Linked DNA regions of Homo sapiens: region 2 is linked to region 1. Evidence: fine-mapped QTL for protein levels in blood plasma. Region 1 holds a variant in brackets. A gene starts in the other region. All regions are shown on their reverse strands.

Region 1 (12,382 bases):
GGCCGAGTGGCTGTGGGGTGGGTGACCTGGGGCCCTGACTCTGCCTTACCCTTGGCCATGGGGCCACATTCATGCTCGGCCCCCGCCCAGCCTGGGCTGGGAAGGCATCAGCCTGGCCATGAGGCAAGGGGCCGGCCATGCCTGGGGCCAGAGGGGGTCCCCCAGCCCTTCGCCTTCTCTCCATCTCCTGAGTAGGGCCCCTGCCCTGCTCTGACAGGGTGGTCACCTTGCCCCGCTCCGTGCCCAGTCCTGAGCTGGCAGTGTCTCCAGCCTTTGCAGCGTGGCCCTGTCTGCCTCTGTGTGTGTCTGGGCTCCTCTCATTTGGCCGCCCTGCCCGTCTACACTGGTGCCCCCCCACCTGCACTGTCCACCGGGCCAGGCTCTGTCTCTGCCACCTGTTGGGTGCTTGCCAGACTCCGCCATCCTCTCCGCTCCCAGCTTGCGGCTTCTGCCTCCACTGGCCTGGGCCTGCCCTGCCGCCGCCTCCTTGTGCCCTGGCTGTCTGCTGCCCCCTCTGCTGCCCATTGGCCAGCCGCTGAGCTCCCTACCAGGAAGAAAAAGGGCCAGGCCATGCCGGACCAGGACTGGGCACAGCCTCCAGCACTCCAGGTGGACAGGCTGAGAAGCGCGGCGAGCGAGGCAGCCTGGGACGGGTGATTTCTGGAACATGGGGCCAGCCAGCCTTGGCGTGAGGTGTGGACAGCTGCCAGCTTCTTCTCAGGGCTGCTCACAGGCAGCGGGGGAGTGACCCCGTTTTCTGCTTGGCACCTGGCTTGCCATCCCGCTCTACCCCAGGGCACTCAGACCTCAAACTCCTCAGCTGCCTGGAACACCAGGGAAGCCCAGGCTATGTGAGCCTGTGCCCAGCAGGCCAGGGGGCACCAGGACATCCCCCTCTTCTCTGATATTCCAAACCTTCCTGCCTTTGAGGAATGCCTCCCGGTCCTTCTGGTTTTCTAGGCCATGGGCTCACCCTGGTCTGCCAGCTCTGGAGCTCTGAGAATATTCCTGCAAAATGCACATCCCAGGCCTGGCCGCAGACTGTGAGTCACAGGTAGGGCCTGGGATCAGCATTTTCATGGATTCTGCAGGCACTGCTGAGAGCAGCTGCCCGGGGTCAAGCCAGGGCGTGGGCTGTCCTCATCAGGCTCCCCTTCTCAGAGGCCGCCCTTCTGGCCTGGCCTGCACCTTTCCCCACTCACTGCCCACCAGCTGCAGACACACTCACTCCTGCCTCAGGGCCTCTGCACGGTGCAGACATTCCTCCCACAGCTTCCCAGGGAGGCTGAAGAGCAAGGAACCTGCCTCTCCTCACGGAGCCCTCTGCTCCCGCCACACGGCTGGATTTTTCTTGGATGCCAGCGTTTGACATCTCTATGTGAGATCTGCTTCTTCCCTGATCGTGACATTCCCTCCACCAGCAGGCAGCCGCATGAGGACCAGCGCCTGCTCACCGCTGTGTCCCTCCTACGTGCGGGGCAGGCACCCAGCAGCAGGTGTTCGGTGCCCACTGGGAGCGTGCCTGGGCCCCTGCTCCTGCTCCTCAGAGGGAACAAACAACTGACCTGCTGATGGAGGCTGTGAACCCACACGGGTTGTCTGCAGACGTAACGGGGCATCTCCTATGACGCTTCTGGAGAGGGCAAGGCTCCACGGCTGAGGGCTTTCTTTGGGTGACAACCATGTGAAATGCCATGACCTTGTGCCACCCCGTGGCAGATGACTCTCTCAGAAGGTGGTGCGTACCCTTTCCCCATTATGGTGTGGACACGCAGATGTGGGGCCTCTCCCACCTCTTACAACTGGGGCAGGCTGACAACCACAGTAGAAGGGACACCCTGGAACTCCCAGACCACATCATAAGAGGCCACGCAGCTTCCTCCTGGAGCTCTCGGGCAGCTGCCCTTGGAGCCTGACTGCCATGCTGTGAGGAAGCCCAGGTGCCACCGAGGCGGCACATGCAGATGTGCAGCCAATGGCCCTGGCAGAACCTGACAAAGTCAGCACCAGCCACCAGACCTGCCAGCAAGGATGCTCTGAGCCGACGTCCACTCCAGCTGTCGTCTGACTGCCCACGAGACACCCTGAGTGAGCACTGCCCAGCTAAGACCCGTCAACTCCAGAACTGTGAGAGGCGATGGTTCCACGACTTCCTGGCTGTAGTCACTGCTGTTGGGCAGCTGTGGGTGACCCTGAAGGGACACTCTGATAAGGGACATCTGCCTGCATGTGTGACCTGAGTCCCAGCCTCAGCTTTCTCATGTGAAAAATCAGGACCACGGTAGACCCTACCTTATAAGGCAGCTGCAAGAGTGAAATACAATGGAAAATGTACACAAGATAGGGTGGCTGTTCGACGCCCTCTTGGTTCTTCAAATCTAAGGCCCATGTCAAGTTTTACCATCATTTTGCCATCATGATGAGAAAAGAAATGAGACCAGCCTGACCAACATGGAGAAACCCCATCTCTACTAAAAATACAAAATTAGCTGGGCATGGTGGCACTCGCCTGTAATCCCAGCTACTGGGGAGGCTGAGGCAGGAGAATCACTCGAACTCAGGAGGTGGAGGTTGCAGTGAGCCGAGATCGCACCATTGCACTCTGGCCTGGGCAACAAGAATGAAACTCTGTCTCACAAAAAAAAAAAAAAAAAAAAAAAAAGAAATGGAACTTAAACAAGGAAATAGTGTTTTCCTTGTTTTGTTTCTTGCTTATTGAAAGCACCTTGCCTGATGGGTTGAGGGAGGGATTTTCATAAATCACTGTTGTATACACACGTAGAGAGAAAATACCAGCAAGTAAGGGTTACTGTCCCCACATTTGAGTCCACTTCCTCCGGGTCAATTTTGTCTAGAGTCATTGCACCGAGGCTGTCCCTCATACACTCTTCCTTTGGGCCATGTACAGGGCTGGGGGACACCCGTTCCCCAAGAGGGGCCTCCACGATTGACCCGGGAACTTTTGCTTGCTCTGCCGGTATCTAGATCTTACCAGCAGGTGCCAGCAAATGATCTCTGGACGGCGCCCCAGACTCACTGTCCTTCCCTAGATGGGCCCTTGAGGCTTGGGATGGAAGTGTAGAGGGGTCACTGCCAGGTGATACAGTCAGGTTCATCCGTGTTGAGCTGGGGCCACCATGTCATGAACCTGGCTGTTGGCAGCATTCACATGAAACCTGCTTTCAGAGACAATAAGTGTAAACAAATGTCTTAGGATCAGTGCATTGTGTCCCGGATAAGCCCCTTCTCCCAATGTCCCTCCACAACACTCACACGAGGAAAGGAGGCTGGGAGGTGGGGAGGCTGGGAGGTGGGGAGGCTGACAGGCTGGGAGGTGGGGAGGCTGAGAGGTAGGGAGGTGGGGAGGCTGGAAGGTAGGGGCGTGGGGAGGCTGGGAGGTAGGGAGGTGAGGAGGCTGGGAGGTAGGGAGGCTGGGAAGTAGGGAGATGGGGAGGCTGGGAGGTAGGGAGGTAAGGAGGCTGGGAGGCAGGGAGGCTGGGAAGTAGGGAGATGGGGAGGCTGGGAGGTAGGGAGGTGGGGAGGCTGAAAGGTGGCAGGCTGGGAAGTGAGGATGCTGGGAGGTGGGGAGGCTGAGAGGTAGGGAGGTGAGGAGGCTGGGAGGTAGGGAGACTGAGAGGTAGGGAGGTGGGGAGGCTGGGAGGTAAGGAGGCAGGGAGGCTGGGAAGTAGGGAGGTGGGGAGGCTGGGAGGTGGGGAGGCTGAGAGGTAGGGAGGTGGGGAGGCTGGGAGGTGGGGAGGCTGAGAGGTAGGGAGGTGGGGAGGCTTGGAGGTAGAAAGGTGGGCAGGCTGGGAGGTGGGGAGGCTGGGAGTTGGGGAGGTTGGAAGGCAGAGGGGCTAGGAAGTGGGGAGGCTGGAAGACTGGGCTGTTGGGAGGTAGGGAGGCTGGAGGCTGGGCAGTAGGGAGGTGGAGAGGCTGGGAGGTGGGGAGGCTGAGAGGTGGGGAGGTGGGGAGGCTTGGAGGTAGAAGGTGGGCAGGCTGGGAGGTGGGGAGCCTGGGAGGTGGGGAGGCTGGAAGGCTGGGAAGTAGGGAGGTTGGAAGGCAGAGGGGCTGGGAAGTGGGGAGGCTGGAAGGCTGGGCTGCTGGGAGGTAGGGAGGCTGGAGGCTGGGAGGGAGGGAGGTGGGGAGGCTGGAGGCTGGGAGGGAGGGAGGTGGGGAGGATGGCTGGCTGGGATGTGAGGAGGTGTGGAGGCTGAGCCTTGGCAGAATGTGGGCTTTTTTCAGCGAATCACTAGCCCCTGAAGACAGCCCAGGTCAGGTGCAGCACCGCCCCAGAGGCCAATTAGTGATTTGTCACCCTCTGCCTTGGGGAACAAGGCTGCCAGGAGTCCTGCCCCCAGCCACAGCATCCAGCTATGCTCCCTGCCCTCTGGCAGGAGGTAGGGAAACCTCTGCTTTCACATCTGTGGGGAGGCCCCCATACTTGGCCCCTGCCCTTCAGGCCCAACCCACCCTGTCATGGAATCCTCTAGAGTCCTTGAAGGGGCAGAGTCCCACCCCCACCAGGAATTCCATCGGTGATCCTAGGAACGGAGTCCCGGAAGGCCTGCTCCTACGGCCCTGGGGGCAGGAATTGAAGCAGGCGCTCCCTTTAGGCAGCGGGACAGGATGGTGCCGTACAGACACTCCAAGTCCCTCTCCGTGTGACTGGATGTCACCACCTTCTGACCCTCAGGCTCCGGAGGGTCCTAGGAGAGGATCCCCGCCCAGGGTTGTGGAGAGGAGCGAACCGGATCCTGGGGTCAGGCTGCGTCCTGGCACCTGGCACACAGTAGGGCTGCCATCAGGCATGTCCACCCATGCTGTGGACCTTTGCTACTGCCAGGGCAGTGGAAGGGGGCACCTAGGCTGTAGCAGGGGAGCTCTCAAGGGCCCCCCCTCTGTGCAGTTCAGCCGAGGCCAGGCCTGTCCCATCAGGGTGAGGCTTCCCTTGGGGTGAGGGGTCCTCCTCACCTCCTGATCGTAAAGGCCCAGGGCTGGGCTAGGGACCCCGGTGTTAAAAGGGCCAGAAAATGCCGTCCAGGCAGATAGTCCCAGGGAGAGGGCCCAGAGCACCTGCCGCCAGGCTAGGGACGCACGAGGGGGCCATGGTGTCACCCAGCACCCAGCACCCCCCAGAAGCTCCTGGATCCCCGTTAAAACTGGGTGATCATTAAGTGGAGTGCGGTTGTGTCACAGCCCCCAGAAGCCCCACCCACCACTCCCCAGCCACCCCTGGGAGCAAGGCCCTCACCCAGAGAGGTGGGGTGTCACCGGCCTGGCCAGAACCTCAGGGTGAGGCAGGGGCCTCGGGTCACTGCAGGGGGCCTCCAGTGGACCCAGGGGTGGGGCTGACCCCAGCCGCTCCCTCTGGAGATAGAGTTCTGGATGTTTCTACCCTTGCTCCGACTGCCAGCCGCCCCTTGGGTGGGGCCCTTTGATGTCCCCGAACTCACAGGTGGGCGGGGCCCCGAGGCCTCCCCTGGCCCTTTGAAGCTGGGAACTCTTGTGGCCCAGTCCCAGCAGACACAGGCTAACACCGCGTTCACCCTGGAGTCCACCGGCTCCCCCAGCCCAGCCCCAGGATCCCAGGCCTGCTCTCCTCAGGGGTCCCTGGAGGGCCAGTTCCCAGCCTGTGGTCCAACATCCTCACCTCCCTGAACCTCCATAGCAATAGCTGCTGGTTTGGCCCCTGGCTGAGCTGTCTCCTGGTCTCCCTTGTCTCCATTAGCACCCTGTTCTTTAGGTAAGGAAACTGAGGCACAGGGGCTTGGGAAGGCAGAAGCCCCACCCACGGGAGTCATCAGGCAGAGGGAGGGAGGTGGGATGGGAGAAATAGGAGGCCACGGGCTTGCAGGGGTCTGTATCCCAGAGTCCCCCTAACCTGAGGGTACCTGCCCCCCAGGCCTCCCGGTGACCTGGCGGAGGGGCCGGCGGCCAGGTCCCAGGCTTGCTGTGCCGGCACCCCACAGAGGCACAGGGGCAGGGACCAGGCCTTATCAGAGCGGCCGCCCGCCACCCGCCTGCAGCTGACAGAGGGATGGGGAGACCAGCCGTAAACCCGTCTGTTCCCCTAAAGGAGAGAGGGAACAAAGGCATAGGCTAATAAAACTCAGATCAAAGCTGACTTATCTCTTCATTTTGCTATTAAAATTTAGAATCAAAAGGGAAGGCGGCCCCTTTATGGTTCAGGATTACAGAGATTTCTGTGCCTGTGGGGCCCTGCAGGGCCCCCGCTGCCCATCCCAGCTTCAGAGCCCTAGCCTCGGGCTGCAAGGGTTCCTGGAGTTGACCTTCCCAAGGGCACTCCTGGGACATGGGCTCCAGGTCCCTCCTGGGCCTCGGGGGGCCACAAGGAGGGAGTGAACAGCTCTACCTAAGGCCCCCTTGAGACACCAAGACACCCCGTGGCTGACCTCCCCACACCGATGGCTCTGCAGGTGAAGGGGTTTCCTGGCCTGCGCCCTGCGCCCTCTTGTCTCTGCAGAAGACCTCCCTCGGTCCCCAGTTCCTGAAACTCCTAGACCCCTCTAGGAGGGAGACAGCCAGAGGGGCAGGGCCTCTGCCAGCTGCACCCAAGTCAAGCCTGGAGGCCACAGGGCTGGGTGGGTGGGTTCCTCTCCTCCATTTCTCGGCTGTCCCAGGTCTCTGGGGTGGGGGGCACCACTCAGCACCGGATGGAGTGGAACCCCTGGAATCTTGGGCAGCCAGGCAGTCACTCCGGCAGGCCCTGCGTCCGCAGCAGAGGCCCCTGTGCACTGCGCAGGTGACACGCGCGGACCTGTCTGCACCTACCCAGGCTTGCTGTGACACACGGTCCAGTCCCGTGTGTGAGCACGTGCCCAAGCTCCCGTCGGCCGGCGCCCCTCCCCCATGCCCAGGGGGGCCCCGCACGCTTCCTGTGCACGCTTCACCTCTTCTCTAACCAACGCCTGAGCTCCCTGCTCCCTGGTAGGAAGCTGGCGGCCCTTCCCTTCCAAACAGGCCTGACAGGTTATGACACTGAAGATTACAAACCTCCCCCAGGGTGGGTGGGGGAGGGGCGAGGAGGGAAGGTAGACTTCGGGGCAGGGGCTTTGAATGGCCTTCAGCCCCTACCCCAGATGTCCCGGTGCCCAGAGGCTGGACCCCGTAACCTTCATCTCCACACTCCAGGGGTGCAGGACATTCCTGGGTGGAGTGTAGGCCCAGGGCCAGGTGAAGGAGCCTTCCCTAGGTGGCTCTTGCAGGCACGGGCCAGGGCGGGGCAGGC[G/A]GGGCAGGCAGGGCAGTCCTGCCATGCCCCAGGTGCCCAGGGCTACCCTCTCCACCATGCTCTGAGCCCTGGCATGAGCTGGGTTTGGAGGGAGGGGTTGCCACGTGGATGCAGGTTCCAGGCATGGATGAGGGTGGGGTCTGGCCTCAGCCTCCTTGCTGCCCAGACATTGCATTTTTGGGCAGGGCCTGGCAGACACCTGGGATGAACCAAGCACTAGAGGACCATGTGGTCTAGAACTCATGGGGGTCTTAATGGCCCCCATGGGGGAGGGAGAGGAGGAAGGGTTGAGGGATCCCCTCTGTTTCAGAGGAGTAGAGGACCTTTCTGCTGGGCCTAGAAGACAAGAGTGACTGGACAGCACACAGCTCCTAGCATCCCCTCAGCGGGGTCCTGAGATTCCCCTACAGGGAGACATTGTACAGATGTGTGCACCCATTTATCTACTAAATCTTAATGTGGTATACTGATGCTTGGCAGAGGACTTAGAAGGTACCCAGTTAGCAGTGGGCAGCCCCCCTACCATGGCTAAGCCCCAGGTGGGCCAGGGTTTCAGGGTTACGTTAACTAGCTACCAAGTCTGACATTGGTAAGGATTGGGGTTTCAGAGAACTGGAGGTCTGTTAGGTCTGTTTACAAGAGGGTCAACCCAGGCAAATGTCCAAGCTGGCAGGGACCAGAGTTGAGTCTTTAGACTAAGGATATGGTGTTTGGAATACAGCAAAGGTCTTTCTTCTCAGTTTCCATCCACCCATTTATCCATCATCCCACTTATCCATCTATCCATCTATTCATCCATCCATCCATCCATCCATCCATCCATCCATCCATCCATCCACCTCATCCATCCATCCATCCATCCATCCATCCATCCATCCATCCATCTATCCATCCATCCATCCACCTCATCCATCCATCCATCCATCCATCCATCCACCCATCCACTTATCCATCCATCCATTTTGCCATCCATTCATTCATCCCTTTACCCATCTCTCCCTCTCTTCCTCCCGTCATCCTTTGATCTGTCTGTGCATCTATCTTTAGGCACCTATCTACACATTTATGTATCTATTCATCCATCTATCCATTAACTCTCACCACTTTTATGAGCAGATGGGCATGGGTTAAATCACAACTTATCTCTTATTAGCTTAAGAGCTTTTGGGGTCCAGAGAGTACATGTCTCAGTGTGCCCATAATCATATGGGAGGGGTCCCAGAAGTTCTTTCATGAATAAATCTTCCTAAAGCAGTTGGACTGTTTTATTAATTCAGTTGCTTTGAAAATATCTCTTTTTCACCTTCATAGAGAATTGACCTTTGGTTGTTGGTCGACTCTGAGTCCAGGTTTGTTCTGCAGTTGGGTGGTCCCCGTCCTCTCTTGTGGGGGCTGCTCGAGGGTGAAAAAAGGAACTGGCAGATGACAGGACACCCCCGGGAAGGTGGACAGATGTGGGTGGGCGGCTGGGAGGAAGGGCTGTTGGAATAGGCTGTCTGGGGCCAGGAGGCAGGCAACAAGCCCAGACGCCAGGGCAGTCCTTCCCCAGCTGATGGCCTTGCCCATGCGTCCACCTCTGCAGCCTCCGTGTCTCCTTGGTGAAGTCTGGGAGTGTCTGCTTTGTGGGAAGAGGGTGAGGATCCAACAGGACCGTGGCCCATCGTGGGGGTTCTGTAAAGGGCGTAGGTGTGGCCTTGGTGGAGGTAGTCAAGGCTAAATGAGGGCACAAGTGTGGGCTCTGACCCCATACAGTGAGTATCCTTATAAGAAGAGACCCCACAGCACTTGCTTGCTGTCCATGTGAGCCTGGGGAGGCCCCGACGGGGAGCCAAGAAGCGGGTTCTCACCAGCAACCGCATCTGCTGGCCCCTTGATCTGGGCCGCCCAGACCCCAGAGCTATGGGAAATGAATGCGTAGGGTTTAAGCCCCCAGTCTGTGGCCCTTTGTTCTGGCTGCCTGAGTTGACTGAGCTCTCAGGATAGCGAGCGTCTTTAGTCCCGGAGGCCGCCCACCAGGGCAAGATTGTGCAGGCCACTGCTTTCTCTGCCCTGGCCTGTCCAGAGCCCTGGTCGTTCTGTGCCCGCTCCCTGTCCAGCCCCTGCCTCTGTCTTGCCCTCACCTCCACACCCTGTCTGTCCTGCTCAGCACAGGGGACATTTTCTCCAGGTGGAACGGCCATCCAGTGCTCACCGGTGTGCCCGGGTAGGTGCCAGGGTGGAGGATGGGCTGGGACACGGGTGGGGAGGGGGATCTGGCCTGCCTTAGGATGCAGACTTAGGCCTCTCGGAGGAGCCCCGGTCCTATCCAGCTCAGGAAGGGGGCTGCTGGGCTGAAACAAGCAACTGGGGAGTCTGGGGACCCAGAAACACCTTGGGGCTCTGGGCTCACACCCTGCTAGCTGCAGGGCTGGCCCCGTGAGCCATCAGAGGAGCCAACAGCGCACCTGCGCTGAACGCTGCACCATGAGCTGACCCCGGGCCCCTGCCACCCTGCCGGCCATACCACATTCAGAGTGGGGCAGCATGCAGTAGGCGCTTATAAAGGCCTCGGCCAGAGTGGCCCAGCAACAAGTCTGCAGCAGGGCAGTCATGGGATGGGCCCCAGCTGTGGCCTGGGGGTTCTGTCCAGGGCCCACTGCAGCAACGGGCTGCTCCTGGAGGTGGGGCATTCTCTGTGCTCAGCCTCAGAGGTCCCTGGTGGATGCCAGGTCACCTGACTGTCCAAAAGTTCCAGCAAAAGGGCCCCTGTCTTGGGAAGGCCCAGGCTGAGGAGGGGAGGATGGCCCGACCTTAGGGGACATAGTCAGAGACTATGCTTTCAAGCCTCCATGGCCTCCCTTGCACGGCAGAGAAGTGGGTATAGAAAGTATGGTCAGGGAGCCCAGTGGAGACGGAGCTGGCCAGCCAGGAAGGACCTAGGTATTCTGGGCAGGAGGGTGAGAAGGGCTCCCTCCTCCAGGCCTGCCCAGGCCGCCTCCTGCTCCAGGCTCCGCTAGCTGCCCCGGGCTCCGCTAGCTGCCCTGTTCCCCGCACCACCACGTCCCCTCACGCCTGCGGCAGGGAAACAGGAGATGCTGTGGTTTTGTGACGTCTGCCCTCATGTCCCCAGCTGGAGGCCCTCTGCGGGTCAGCCTGTCTGACTCTCACCCACTCCTGGTTGTCCCTGTCTGCAGGTGCTGGCTGTGCTGGACAAAGGGCTGTGCCTTGGCTGGCAGTCCTCTAGGCCATTGGTCTGTGGCTGTCTGTCTGTGGTGGTCAACCTGCCCAGGGCAGACAGTGAGCTATGCCAGCCAGGCCCTGGCTCCCACTGCTCAGCTCAGAAGGTCCGGGGCTAGGTATGTCTGTGAGGGCTGTGCTGTGCCGACTTCGGACACCCAGGCGCGAGACCCTGCAGGCACAGGTGACTTTTGGTGCTGGAACAGTTGTATTCCCAGCCAGTAGCCAGGCCTAGCGCTAGTTAAAGGAGGGATGCTGGCCCTGTGGAGGCGAGAGGCCCAGCACCAGGTGGCCTCGTCTTGCTGTCCACCAGAACTGGGACGACATGGGGCTGGGCTGGCCTGTGAATGACCACATGGCAGGCCCAGCTCCTAGTTCTGTGGAGCAGGGGCCACGACCCCTTCCCTGCCAGTGGCTGTGAGGACAGGATCCTGGAGGGGGAAGGGATGCACCCGACATCCCTGGGGTGGGTTTTGAGGAGGAGCCCTCCTGATCCCAGGTGAAGATACTGGCCAGGCCTGGTCCCTGGACAGCCCCTAGAAAGGTGCCGCCTGCCAGGTCTCTGGGTCCTTGAGGTGGGCTCAAGGCCACCTCAGCAGACGACTCATGCCATGTCCCCACCCCGACGTGCATGCCAAGTCCAGTGACTGTGGGGACTCCAGGGGCCCCCACTGGCCCCCTCCTCTGTCCCCTGAGCTGGGCTTTGCCCTGGGAGAAAGGAAGCAGCGAGGTCCTGAGTGGGATGGCACAGGGCACGTGGGGTGTGGGTGATGGAGGACGTTGAGCTGGGTGGGGAGGGGTGGGGCATGTGTGCGGCCTGGCCATGTGGATCCTCCCAGGGGAGCTGAAGCCCAGGGGCCAAGATGCCCCGGCAGTTGGTGCCTGGTTAGGGAGCTGGGGTTGCGGACCGGCCCCCGTTTGTCACTTGCTGGCCTCTCCCCTGCTACCCTGCAGGCTGGGCTGTGGTGCCACACGGTGGTCTCTTTCTGGGCTGGGGTGTGATTCTTTCCTTTCTCCTGTGGTGTAAGAGTGCACAGCTGTGCAGGAGGCCGCCGAGGGCGTGTGTGTGACTGTGTGTGCTGCGCGTAGGGCCGTGTGTGCTGGCATCTGCGCACGCGTGTTTGCAGGGCCCGCAAGTGTGTGTGTGCATGTGTGGTGTGTGGCATGCGACGTGCCTGTAGAGAAAGTGTGTCTGGGGGCCCCACGTCCTCAGGCCTGGCGCCCATTGACCCCCGTTAAGCCCAAGCCCCATGGCTAGATTGTAGGCGGGACTGAGTTGCTTCGGAGACCTCTGCACTCGACTGTGGGAGTCTTATGGGGGCCTCCTGGGACGTGAGCAACCCCTGCCCTGCCTGGCAGTGTCAGCACCTCGGGCGGCCCACGCCTGGCCCCGCCACCCTTCCCCTGCCCCACTCCTGTGGCAGTCACGGTTGAGCCGCACCTCCTGCGGTCCTGTCCCTCCCTCGGGGTCCTGGGGACCAGCCTGGTTCCCTGAGAGCAATCTGATGGAGACCCCCTGAGTCCCACCCCAGCTCCCCTTTCCTGACCCCTTCCCAGCCCCTCTCCTCCTTGAGGAACCAGCACCCTCCTCCTGCAGCCCGGCCACCTGGACATGGGACGAGGGCCCCACCGTGTGGCCACCTGGACACCCTGCAGGGCGGCTCCTCGGCCTGACTTCTGCCTTCAGCACCCAGGGCTCCTCCTCCTCTCCGACTGTACATGTGAGATGGGAGACAGAGACACGGGGACGGGGACACAGAGACAGGGAGACAGAGATGCAGAGAGATGGAGGCGGGGAGACAGAGACGCAGAGAGACAGAGACAGAGAGACAGGGAGACAGAGACACAGAGAGACAGAGATGAGGAGACAGAGGCGCAGAGACAGGGACACAGAGATGGGGAGACAGAGATGCAGAG
Region 2 (12,382 bases), not on the chromosome of region 1:
GCATTGGATTTCTGCCTCCACACATAGTTGTCCTTTCCCCACCGACCATGAGTCTTCTTTGGAGTGGGTCTTCAGAGACAATAGGTACATTTTTTTTATTCTCTGTGGAAGGTGAACAGGTTCTTTGAGACTCCAGGTTCTTCTGTCAACCAGGTTACCTCATGTGATACCCCACTAATCGTGGTGGGATTAACCTGTCTAGTTTCAGCACTAAAGATTTTGTGTGTGCTTACATTTGAGGGTTCATGTACCATACAGGAAAAGCACAATGGAAATCACTCAACAGGGTCGAACTTCACTTTGAAATTCAGCTTGATCTTTTAGATTAAGAACTCCACAAGTATAACATTCATTTCTTTATCTCTGGAACACAGGATCCATTGGATGAATAAATGATTCTTTATGATGGGCTGGGAATTCCCAAAGGAAGTTAACTAACATAGGTCATGTTGGTGAAAAATTAGATTTTAAAGTAAATAAATGTGAAGTCAAAGTAACAGTGGCCAGATTCTACATTACCTTTAGTTTGAGGACACAGAATCTTGGCTTCTGTCTTCTCAGACCCCTAACCCCAAAGCTCATGACTATCCCTTTGACCTAAAGCAAAAGAAACTGGGGCTTCCTCTGTTGTAATTTCCCATCAGTCCTTATCTGAGACGCTAGGCTACAGCAGGGTACTATAATCCCTGAAGTATTGAAAGAGGCCCAGGATGTGGTACAGTCTGTATGTGAGGGGTATGTACACATAGAATCTGATGTTTATCCATGAACTGGCTAAAATCTCAGCATTTGGAAAGAAAAGGTTTGCAGGGAGTAACAGAAACAGCAGCAATTGCAGCTGATGGTTCCATTAAGTCAATCCCCTCCGAGGCTCTGAGGAATAGGTAATTACAAGCAGGCTGGTTGCTCTCCTGGATAGACTAGCAGGCAGCTTGCTGTTAGAAACCTCAAAATACCTTCTTCTGAGATCTCTGTGATCCGCTAATCATCAGAGGAAAGTAGAGCTATTCATGCCTCTGAAGGTTGGCTTACCACTGCTGAACACCAGAGCAAGGGGCTGCCTGATTGTGGAGGCCTCCCTGCTGCTGGATTCTGTACTCACTGGGCATTACCAATCAAAAGCAGGTGTCACAATCAAATGGTGACTGTTCCTCAACTGAAGGGCCTTCCATTTTGGAAGTCCTGCCCTATTGTTAAGAACTTGCTTAAGGCCTACTTATTACTCATCAGAGACAAAACCCAAAATTAGGAATAGCTTCCTTAATCATGGTTGTCCAGGTAGCATGGAGTGCCCAGTGAAAGTCCCTGCAAACACACTCCCCAGAGTAATGCCTCAGCGTTTTGAAAGGCATCCAATGGCAGATGATATCATTTCTAGTTAAGAGTTCAAACTTATCATCCTGGCTCCAAAAGCTTTCTTCCCAGCCAAGTGCTCATGAGATGTGCCTGAGGCTATTGCCACAGCTCAGTGGGATTGGCCTAATTATATCAGAATCCCCTCTCCAAAAGTCACTGTTCCTAGAGGAAAAAAGGGTAAAAAAACATGCTAACTGACTTTGAGTGCTTTTAAAATGAAAGATCTTTGGCAGACCCCAAATGTATTTAAATACCTACAGGATGAGACCTAGGGGTCTGCATTTTAACAAAAAAATATAATTCTCAGGCATACTGAAATTTGATTTGCACTAGGTTAAGGATTATGAGAACTTCCAACCCCCGTTCCAGCCTCAGAGATATTTGCACTGAATGCAGTTGCGCAGGACACCAGTGAGTCCTTTGCTGTCCTCTTTCCTCGAGGATTATGCTTGCCCCTGTGTAAGAGCATTAGTCCATGGACCAGGTCTGAGATAGGGGCAATGATAAAAACAGCCAAGCTGCAAGAGATGACATCCCTCTTTTCTCTCACAATGGCAACAATGCTTCTAAGGTTAGCCAAAATCTCAGATGAAGATATCTCACAGCATCCTCATCTTAGTGCAGACCCCAACTCGATGAATGAATATTAGATACTCCAGCTTCAACAGTGACAGCAATTTTTCTCCTCCCTTTTATAAATGACTAGAACAAGGAGCCCTCTGAAAAGGTGAGAAGTTCCAGGTCCCTGAGGACAGATTTTTAGGAGCTGGCCATCCCATTTATTCCAAGATTTTGAATGGTTTTAACTTTGTCTTTTTGCTTTCCTCAAATACCCATGTCCATGATAGATAAGATGGGTTTCTGGAACACGATGAACCTTACATTTACAGATATAAGTAGAAGCCCTGTGGGCAAGGCTGGTGGGCTTCACCATGGGCTGCTAGCACGTGAAAGTGGCTGGCTAGATTGAAGCAGAAGCCTCACTTGGGGGAGGCTTCCTCAGCTCTACCTGTAGCTTGTGTAGGTACAAGAATGAAGGATAAAGAGGAGTGTGCGCAAGTGGTCTGACCAGAGGAAAGAAGGGACTTGTGTCTCTATCCTTCTCGTCTGCTGATCCTTTCACTTCACAGGCTGCACAGGGTAAGGGGTGGAGTGCAGGCAGACAAAGAGCAATAAAAGGTACAGAAAAAGGGAGATAAGAGACAAAGAAAAGGGTGAAGGAGAAAATGTGGAGAAAAGAAATGAAGGTCAAAAAGAGAGATGGGAAAGAAAGAAGAAAGGAGAAATAAAAGACATGGGGAGAGGAAAGACCAAAAGAGCTTTGAGAAGCAGAGAGACTGGAAAAAGAATGGGAAAACACAGAGACAGAGAGATGGAGAAACAAATGAGAAACAGAGACAAGAAAGATGGGCAACAGAGAGGTCAGAGAGAAAGGCAAGAAACAGTAGGAGATGAGAGCCATGAAACACAGAGATAAGAAACAGAAGTGAGCAGAAAAATGACAGAGATAGACATAAAAAAGAGAGACAGACAGAATATGAGAGGCAGACAGAAGTAGAGGGGGACCAAGAGATCTGTGTGGCTGAAGAAGGCGGAAGCCAGCCCTTTTGTTTCTGAACCAGCTTCCCCTGCCCCCCACATACCCTCCCCATGTTCTCAACAGTGGTGAAGAGCTCCTTGTTCCCTCACTGAGCTCTCACATGAGAATGTGATGCACTTCTATTCTTCAGATAAACAGCTGAATGATAAGGACAAACTATCTCCATCATTCATTTAAATTCAATTGTCCCTAGAGCGTCTCCTTCTACTATGAATGCCCTACTGGAGCTTTCATCAGATCGAGCCCATCCCCAGGCTGTCCTCCGCTCATGTGTTTCTGTGTAAAATTTTTCTCTGCTTTGATAGAGAGACTTTCAAGAGTTCATTTACATCTCCCAAGGACATATTTACCATCAGATGGACACTAGATAGATTGGCTTCCATTTGTATCTGGGCTCTGAGTATGCTGGTTGTTTTCTGGTTTGTCATTCCCTGAAAAATCTGTAACCTCTTCTAATAAAATGAATAATGGATAAATGATTTTAAATGGTTTGTGGTTTGCTATCAGAGGAGTATCATACATATTAAACACCCAAAATCTTAATGTGCTTAACATCTTTTCCAGCTTTTTGAACAAAGTGGGCTACTTTACCCCCAGGTATAAATCAATTAGCAGAGACATAACCAAGGAGACGTTCAAGACCAAGTTAACTGAGTCTACAGTTAGGATCTCTGAGTGGATGACAGATGTTACACTGAAAGTCAGTAACCAGCATGTCTAATGCTACAGTTGCACCTTTTATAAAAACTGCCTAAATCCCTCTATGTTGCTAGGAGAGGGGGAGAAATTACATACATGCAAGGAAGAAAGGAGGTGAGTTGGAATTAATAGGTACCAATCAATATAAGACTTGGATGTGCGTATCTTACTAAGAGGCATAAATTAAGGCTTAGTGTGCAAGTACTTACATCAGTACCCAGTTTCATCAACATGTGGAGAAAGAAAGCATCGAGTTCCTTCTCTTCTATGTAACCTTTTTCTAAATGTGAGAAAATAAACATAAATAATACTAACATATAAAAAACACATGACAGTATTTATCTAAATATGTTTTTAATCTCACAATTCATAAAGCTTCCCTCAACACTATTTTTTGTTATTCCAATAACAAAGTGCCAACACCTACCTCTAGAATACATGGGTTTGAACAGTAAACACTGTTCCAGAATACGTGCTTTATGCTAGGGTTTATATTAGTGCTTGGAAAAGGAAGGCTATTAAGTACATGAATTTTAATCAATGAATAAACGTGAACTTTCCAATAAAATTTAACCCCAAAATTTCTGAAGCTTGGAGAAACTTAACAGGTGTAAGTATTGAATCCCAGTTTGCAGAGTTAAAACACACCTTTTAGATATTTTATTTCTTTATTAATAAAAACAAATATTAAGTAGTTCCATTTTATTTTCAAGTAGTTTTTTGGTGGAGGAGTCGTTTTGAAAGCTGATAAAATTTATTCTCATTTTGAGAGAGTGAGGGGTGTACAGCAAAGTCACTGCGTAAAAGTGAGCCCATTTAGGGAAGGATGACTTCAAATAGCTGAGTCTCAGCCCACAAGCCTTGAACATATACAATGATATTAGTCATTGTATATACAATATATATGTATGTCTACCATATATATGGCGCGCTCGCACACAAAGAGAGATTGGAAAGGGGAAAGTGGAAATTCACCACCCAGAATTTTAACAAGGTATATAGATGTGTATCACCAGTATGCCAAACGTCTGTTAATGATACTGTATTAGGTACACTGCATTAACAACCCAGGTCGATAACTTTTCCTACAGTAAAGGGGAAACTCCAGGTCCTTTCAGCGGGCTGAGCTTGGAGCCACGTCTACACCTGAGTGTGCAAGTGGCTTGTTCTACTCACCATCCGCATCAAAGCGCTGCCAGACCTGCCAGAAGCCAGCGGCGTCCAAGCGCCCCAGAGTCGGTTCCCGGGAGCTGTCCATGGTGTTGACGACGAAGACCAGGCACCGGCGCGGAAGGACCTAGACAACTTTGGGAAGGACTCCTTCACCGTATTTCTTGACTTGCTCTCCTGCTTCTTTCGCTATCTGATTAGCTTTGAGTAACTGTTGCTGGGGAGGACGCGAGCGCTGCTGGCCGTGGCGTCGCTGAGCCGTCCCTCAGCCCTCAGCAAAACCAGCGGCTGGAAGCCCGCCCCGCTCCTGGCGCGCCTGTCCCCGCCCCGCCCTGCGCGCTGTCCTGGCAGATCCTGTCTGTCTCTGCGCTTTGGGGAATTCAGGAAGAAAGAAACTGTCTCCAGGCGTCCACGGCTCACTGCTTTTGCCCTTTAACTTGCTTCTCAGACTCGGAGAAGACATCCCTCTTACGTTTGACTCACTTTCCAAACTTGTGTCTCAAGGGGTTTTCTAGGGAGAGCTGCCTCATTTAAAGGGTTGCAAGAAGTGTCAGTGTTAGGGTCCTTTGGACTTGAGGATTTAGAAATGTAGTGTGTGGAGAGGGGAGGCGAGAAGGGATGGTGATGGTGGTAAGTGGTTCCCTTTAAGGAAGAAGTCAACAGCAATTATTGAGTCCTGATTGTATAGGACATACACATTGCTGTACCAAAATGCACTATAAGGACTTGCAACTAAACAGGGATACTGCAAGTCACTGTGATTTAAAGTAGCATCATTAGGATGCTGAGGAAAATATAAACTAAGCCGTACTCTGCCAGGAAAAGAGAGTCTGGGGGAGATGTGTCTGCCTGCAGGGTACTTAGGTAGAAGGCTTAGATGATTGTGTTTGGCTCCTAAGAGCCACATTAAGACCAAAGGATAAAAATCAGTTGGAGGAACACAGAGCTTTCTAACAATCAGGACTGTTCAAAATTGGGCAAGGCTTTGTGGAAACGTGTACAAACTACACTGATACCTTTTGACTATATATTTAGAAATTTTCGTTGGATAATCTATAGAAAGTGCTTGGATATTAGATAAGAAAGTTGAACCAGATGTAACTTTTCTTTATGGCACCCTGACTCTGGTTTTAGCATTCAGATTTATTTATAAAAAGCATGCATGTATAAGTCATCTAAACCAGAGTAGTGAAAAGAACATGACACTCAAGGTCAGATAGTCCTGGGTCAGGATCTGAGTTCCATTATTTACCAGCTTTGTGAACTGCACCATTAGTTCTCATCTCCCTAAGCCTCAATTTTCTTATCTATAAAATGAGGATTAAAACATCTGTTTTGGAGGGTTGCTGTGAGGATCAGAACCATACATAGTAATGCACAATGAATTATATCTGCTATGGTGTTGTAGCTGATGAGGGATGACTCTGTTAGAGAAAACAAGTAAAGTCTAAGAGATTGTCATAGCCAAGAGGAACCTAATGAAAAATGACAAAGAAATGTAATGTTTTATCCTGGGTGTGATGCCGGAACAGAAAAAGGCCATTAGGTAAAAATTAAGAAAATTTTAATAAACACGGACTTTAGTTAATAATAATGAAAAAAATGGTTCAGAAGAAAACAGTTCTGGGTTCAGGGCCCAGCTTTGCCTCTTACTAGTTGTGTGTGATATTGGGCAAGTTACTCAAAAGAAGCCTCACTTTCTTTGTAAAATGGGAATAATAGTAGTATTTACCCCGTGTTATTATCATAAAGGTCAAATTAAAAAATCATATAAACCTATTGTCACAGTATATACAGTAACATTCAGTGTAAGTTAGCTACTAAAATGATGAATCTTCCATACATACATACATATTTGGAAGACGGTGAAGTAAACTTCAGGATTTTTGAGGAGTGTGGCTTAGCCTAAAGGAAGAAAAGCAGTATTATCACCGATTAAGCAAGTGCTGGTTACAAAAATTGGAGAAAAGCATATGTAGCATAGGAGGGTGTAAGGGTTCAGTATCTGTAATTATCATCTGTGACTTTAGGAAATTAGTGGATACAATGTCAAGCACCAGTTAGGAAAAGTAATTGGTATGAACCCACCAGGGCTGATCTTGTTTTCTGATAAATAGTGGAAAAAGATAAAACAAGGCAGATTTCAGAAGTAATAATCAAGATCTAATGTGGAGGGATGGTTAAATAAATGATAGTAAATATCTATGATGGGCTTTGCTGCATACACAGAAATCTTGATTTTGAAGCTTGATGATCCAGAAAACTCAAAACATAAGGTTAAGATTAAAAAGCAAGTTACAAAAGTGTACATATATGATGACTCAATTCTGTAAAATAAAATACATGTTTCTACACATAGAAAACATGGAAGATATACATTAATGACATTAATGATATGTTTCTCTGGAGTGGGGAAGAGGGAGGCTCACAGATGATTTCAATTTTGCTATTTGTAATTCTTTTGTCTTAAAACTTTGTGCAGTAAGCATATAATGCAAGCTATTATACTTTTTTAAAGTTGTAAAAGTGAAATCTAGGGAAAGAAGAGGAAAAGTACAGCCGCAAAGATTACTGTTCTCAGGACTGGAGAACAAACAGAACTTGGAACACTTTCCAGGAGCCTGTCATCTGGAGCTCTCTGGGGAGCTGCAATCTCCATTCAATGACTTATTTCCTGTTTTCTTTGCATCCAAATATTTATCATGGCACTGGGTAGGGAGATACTGCTTAGGAATCCTGCATTCCCTCATAAAAGTTTCTCTTTGAGAAAATCATCCAAGCCCTTAACAGAGAAGAGAGCCAGTAGGAAGGTATTTAAAGATCCTACAGGAGACACCTGTAAGACTGTCTCATTGGGAAAGTTCTCCTGCCTAAAAATGGAGTGATGGAGGTGGGGATGAAAGAACCAGAGGTGGTTTATCAGAGTCCCTTCCTGTCCAAAAAGAGAACTCAGAGTAAAGCAAATATTCAGCAGCTGGAATCAAGTTGAAATACATTTTGCATCTTATGGATTAATTAGCACCTTCCACAGAGATTCTGATTTAAATGGTTTGGAGAAAGACCTCTATGCTGATATTTTTTTAAGTGTTCCCCTAGGGATTACACTAGAACCACTGACGAACCTTTTGTCTATAAGTTTCCTGCTGCTCATATTCTGGTCATTTTATTATTTAGGTATGGCATCTCTGAAGGATAATCGAGAAAAGAAAAAACTTCTAAAGAATTAACATTACTTTCTTATTAATACACTGCCTCTTTCAAAGAGAGGTTAGAATTTATACTTATATGTAATCCTGGTAAGTTTTGACAATTGATGGCTGAAACTAGAGACTAAAATCAGTTGTTTTTCTTTTTTCCCTACTGATTTCATTTTCTCCTGCAATCATTTCCTGCTTTTCTCATTAGCATAGCTAATTGATGGTTAGTTGCACAAGAAGAGGCAGTGGTCTGTAATTTGAAGCATTGCTAATTAACTCTGATGCATCCATTCAATTTTAAGCTAAAATATCTGCATCTTTTTACAAACTCAGAATGATATTTCTAACTGGAAATATAAACAATACTCATCTTCATATGTTGTTGAACATTCAAGCTCTGTAGACATCTCACAGACTGTATAGTAGACCTTAGAATTCAAAGAGACAGCCTTGGTTTAAAGCCACACCAGTTCCAAAGGGCCATGCAAGCAGAACAAAAGAAATTGGACAGTGGTTTTCATAAGATAATAAGAAAACACTAGAAATAGAGTTATTTTTAAAATATATACATTTTACTGTTTCCTTTGCAATCACATGAATAGTACAGATAATTTAAACAATATAGATTAGAAAAACTACAAAACAAGAAAGAAAACTTTCTTCCATAATTTTGACATCTAGAGATAACTAGCAATAATAACATATGGGTTTATGTCCTTACAGTAATTTTTTATATGCAGAAAAAGTAGATTATACTGCTCTGTAACTTGCTCATTTCACTTAATATTATGAAGCATGTCATTAAATATTCTTCTATGATATTATTTTAATGTCAGTATTATCATAATTTATTTAATATCCTCTTTTTAGACTTTTCAATTGTCCCTAGGTTTTCACTATCATAAACCTCTGCTGTTACAGCTAAATGTTTGCACACTCTAGTAATTATTTCTTCGGGATAAAGTTCTAAATGCACAAGTGCTGGGCTAAACAATGTATAACATCGTAAGTCTTTATAACATAAGGTTAAAAGTGGTCTCCAGCTGAATTTTACTGATTTATACTGCTATTAGCAGTGGAAGAGATACCTTTTTACACCATTACTAACAATAAAAATAAAAATCTTTGAATAGTTTAAAGTAGTAGTTAATAGTGATTTTATAGGTGGTTGTTTGGGGTAATTTGGGATTTTTTAAGAGGTGGGCTAAGTGTTAAAGTTAAAAGCCTATCACACTCAAGTGGCTCTTCAAAATTTCTTGTCCTCTCTCCCCTTCCTACCCCACAGAACATAGCATCTGGCACTGTGTCTTGCAAACAGTGACTATTTAGTATTCTATATTACCCCAATGATACCATCTTTTCTTAAGGAGTTGATATCACTAAATTATGAAAGAAGATTTTTGTAACCTGTACTAAAGCACAAAACCAGTGCTTTAAAAGCTCTAGGTCTGTTAAAGTAAGTTGAAACTGTAAATATTTTTCCAGCCACTTATACAGCCATCTTCTTACAAACTTAATAATACAAATGCATAGTGTAGCTTTTAAAATTTATTTTCTTCCTATTTTTCCCCTTCTGGGTCTACATTCCTAAATTATATAGAAGTTTTATCTCAGCACCAAGTCTGATACATAGTACTTACTAAACAAATGGTAGGCATAGCTAAATCTAGGTGTCTACACAGAATAAGGACATTATTATATTTATTTCCCAAATAGTTTGTAAATTTTGTTCACAAAATATTGATACATTAATAACCATTTCTTTTTTAACTTAAATATATATGTACTTAACTTGTTAATTTGCAGCTTTTTAAAATATAATCATTTCAAAGCTATAAATTTCCCTCCAAGTAAGGCTTAAGAGACATCCTATGAGTTTTGCTTAATTATAATTTTCTTCTGATTCCCACTGTGATTTCCCTTGGACCATGAGTTAAAGTGTTCCTAAATCCTAAATACACATGATTTATGTAACTTCTTTGTTACTGATTTTTAAATCTAATTGCATTGTAGGTGGAGAATGTGATCTATAGTAGCCATCTTTTGAACTTTGTTGAGGATTGATTTATGGCCTTTTATGAAGTAAATATTCATAAATTTTTAGTGTGTGCTTGAAAAAATATGAATTTCTCCATTTGGGGATGTAGGTTCTAGGTATGTTCATCACATCAGGTATGTTAGTTACATTGTTTAAACTTCTATATCCTTACTGATTTTTTGCCTGCTTGATTTAAAAATTATGGAGAAATATGTTTAAGTCTTCTATTCTGATGGTGGATCTCTCTGGTTCTTCTTGTCATTATTTGCATTCTTTGTTTTATGTATTTTGAGACTATGTGACTGGGTGAATATTGATTAAAAGTTATCTGTTCTTGGTGAACAAATTCCTTTTATTATTGTTTAGTGACCTTTTATCTCTTGTACATTTTTTTGCTCTATTAAAGTTTATTTTACCTAATATTATTATAGGTGCATCCACTTTCTTTTGTAGTATTTGCTTCATCTAGCTATTTTTATCCATTTACATTCATCATCTTGCATGTTTTAGATGGTATCCATAGAATATTTAGCTATTTTTACTTATCATAATTACTGATATATTTGGATTTATTTCATGTTATTTTTCCTGCCTTCTGTATGCTTATTTTTCCCTTCTGTCCTCTCTGCTTTTTGCTTGATAAAGATTTTTCATTCTCATTTTTCCTATTTATTAACTTGGAAATTATGTATTCATCTTCTGTTTCAGTTTTTTTAATCCTAGAGATATCAACATGCATACATGACTTTTAAAGTAAAAATTAATACATTTACAGCCCTTGCACATAACGTTAAAACCTTAGGATATTTTAGAACTGTCCACCCCATCCCATCTTACATACTATTGTTATTATGTATTTTAAGTGTATTTTAAATCCACAAAATATTGCCATTATTTTTTCATCTAGTAATATTTGTTTAGATTTTCCCATATATTTGTCATTGTTTTTGCTCATCTAATTCTTCTTGCATTTCAGAAATTCCATCTGGGATTACTCTTATTCTTCTGAAAGTGCATCCTTTAAAATCCTCTTTATTCGAGGCCTGTTGGAGGAAAAGTCATCATCTGTCTGAAAATGTCTTTATTTCACCTTTGCTCTTGACAAAAAACGTTGCCAGATATTGATTTTTGTGTTGACAGCTACTTTCTCTTAGAATGCTGAGATTATCTTTCCCTCAGGACCTTCTGAATGCCTTCGCTGCTGTTGAGAAGTCAGCTGTTTGTCTGTATGTAATTCCCTTGCAGGTCTCCGTTGTTTTGCTCTGGCTGCTTTAAGGATTTTTCTCTGTCTTTGGAGTTCTGTGGTTTTAGTACAATATGTCTAGAGATTTTTTTTATCCTGCTTAAAATTCATGGGGCTACTTGAATCTGTGATTTGATATCTCTCATTAGCTCTAGAAAAGTCTCAGCCATTTATTCTTTAATTTCTCTCTCTCTCCACTCCTTCCCTCCCCCTAACCATCTCTCTCCGCTTTTCTCCTGTGATTCTAATTAGAAATATATTAATCCTTCTCACTCTAAGTCTCCTCCTCATCATTACTATTCATATTTTCTGCCACTTTGTTTCTTTGTGCTGCATATTGCATAATTTTTTCAGATCCATCTTTTAATTCACTGATGCTCAGTGCAGCTATATTTAATCAATTGTTAAAGTCATCATTTAAGTTTTTAACATTATATATTTTGTTCTTTTTAAAATATGTTTGATTACGTCTCGTAGTTTCTTGTTCTCTCCTATTTTCCATCTTTTATTGATTTAAACTGATTAAAAATAACTATTGAACATTCTATTTTTTATTTTTCCCATCTCTGAAGTCTGATTCTACTGTGTGTTATTCCTGCTAGATCTCACTAATAGTGACTTATTTTCTTATGTTATTTTTATAATTTTGACTGTATACATTCATAAGTCTTGGAACTTTTTCTATGGAAATACTTTAAAGCCTAGGCTGAAGGTGAATTTCTCCAGAGAGGATTTGCATTTGCTTATACCAGATGTCTATGGCATTATCTGCCCAAGGTAACTTTAAACTAAATTCATAGACTGAGGTTTTTTTGTTTTGCTTTGTTTAACAGCCAGTTAGAATGAATTCAGACAGCAAACATGTATGAGGGCCAATTTGTGGTTAGGAATTCTTAAGTTAGATGATTTTTCTCTTCCATCTGCACCTCAGTTTGAAATAGATACTTTTTAATGAAGTCACTTGGGCTTTATTATTTCTAGATTCCACTAACATTGACGGGACTCCTCCTTAGGCTTTCTCTCTTAATGCTGTGAAATTTGAAGGAAAATTCACCTTATTTGCTAAATATTTTCAAAGC

Direction of the effects. Alleles are on the strand shown, and positions count from the first base shown. The strength of an association depends on the size of the effect and on how common the allele is.
In carriers of allele A in region 1, the plasma level of the protein whose gene starts at base 5,102 in region 2 tends to be higher than with G alone (weak association).

Evidence for each region. A credible set is the group of variants that fine-mapping cannot tell apart. PIP is the chance, under the fine-mapping model, that this variant and not a neighbour inherited with it causes the effect. Protein levels are from antibody-based Olink assays in UK Biobank. Linkage for the fine-mapping came from a reference panel and not from the study's own genotypes, which makes the PIPs less certain.
Region 2: SCGN starts here. The variant in region 1 is the best candidate, but not a certain one, in a credible set for the plasma level of the SCGN protein (UK Biobank, PIP 0.63).

What each region holds. Positions count from the first base shown.
Region 1 is chr11:2,197,112-2,209,493 of GRCh38, reverse strand. No RefSeq gene overlaps it. Among named protein-coding and RNA genes, the nearest start is that of MIR4686, 30 kb to the right of the region's middle. RefSeq lists an enhancer at 4,221-4,819. The variant G/A (reference allele first, on the strand shown) is at 7,250.
Region 2 is chr6:25,644,935-25,657,316 of GRCh38, reverse strand. It overlaps SCGN (secretagogin, EF-hand calcium binding protein), which reads right to left and starts at 5,102. Exons shown (of 11, transcript NM_006998.4): 1 at 4,832-5,102; 2 at 3,865-3,935. The coding sequence starts at 4,913.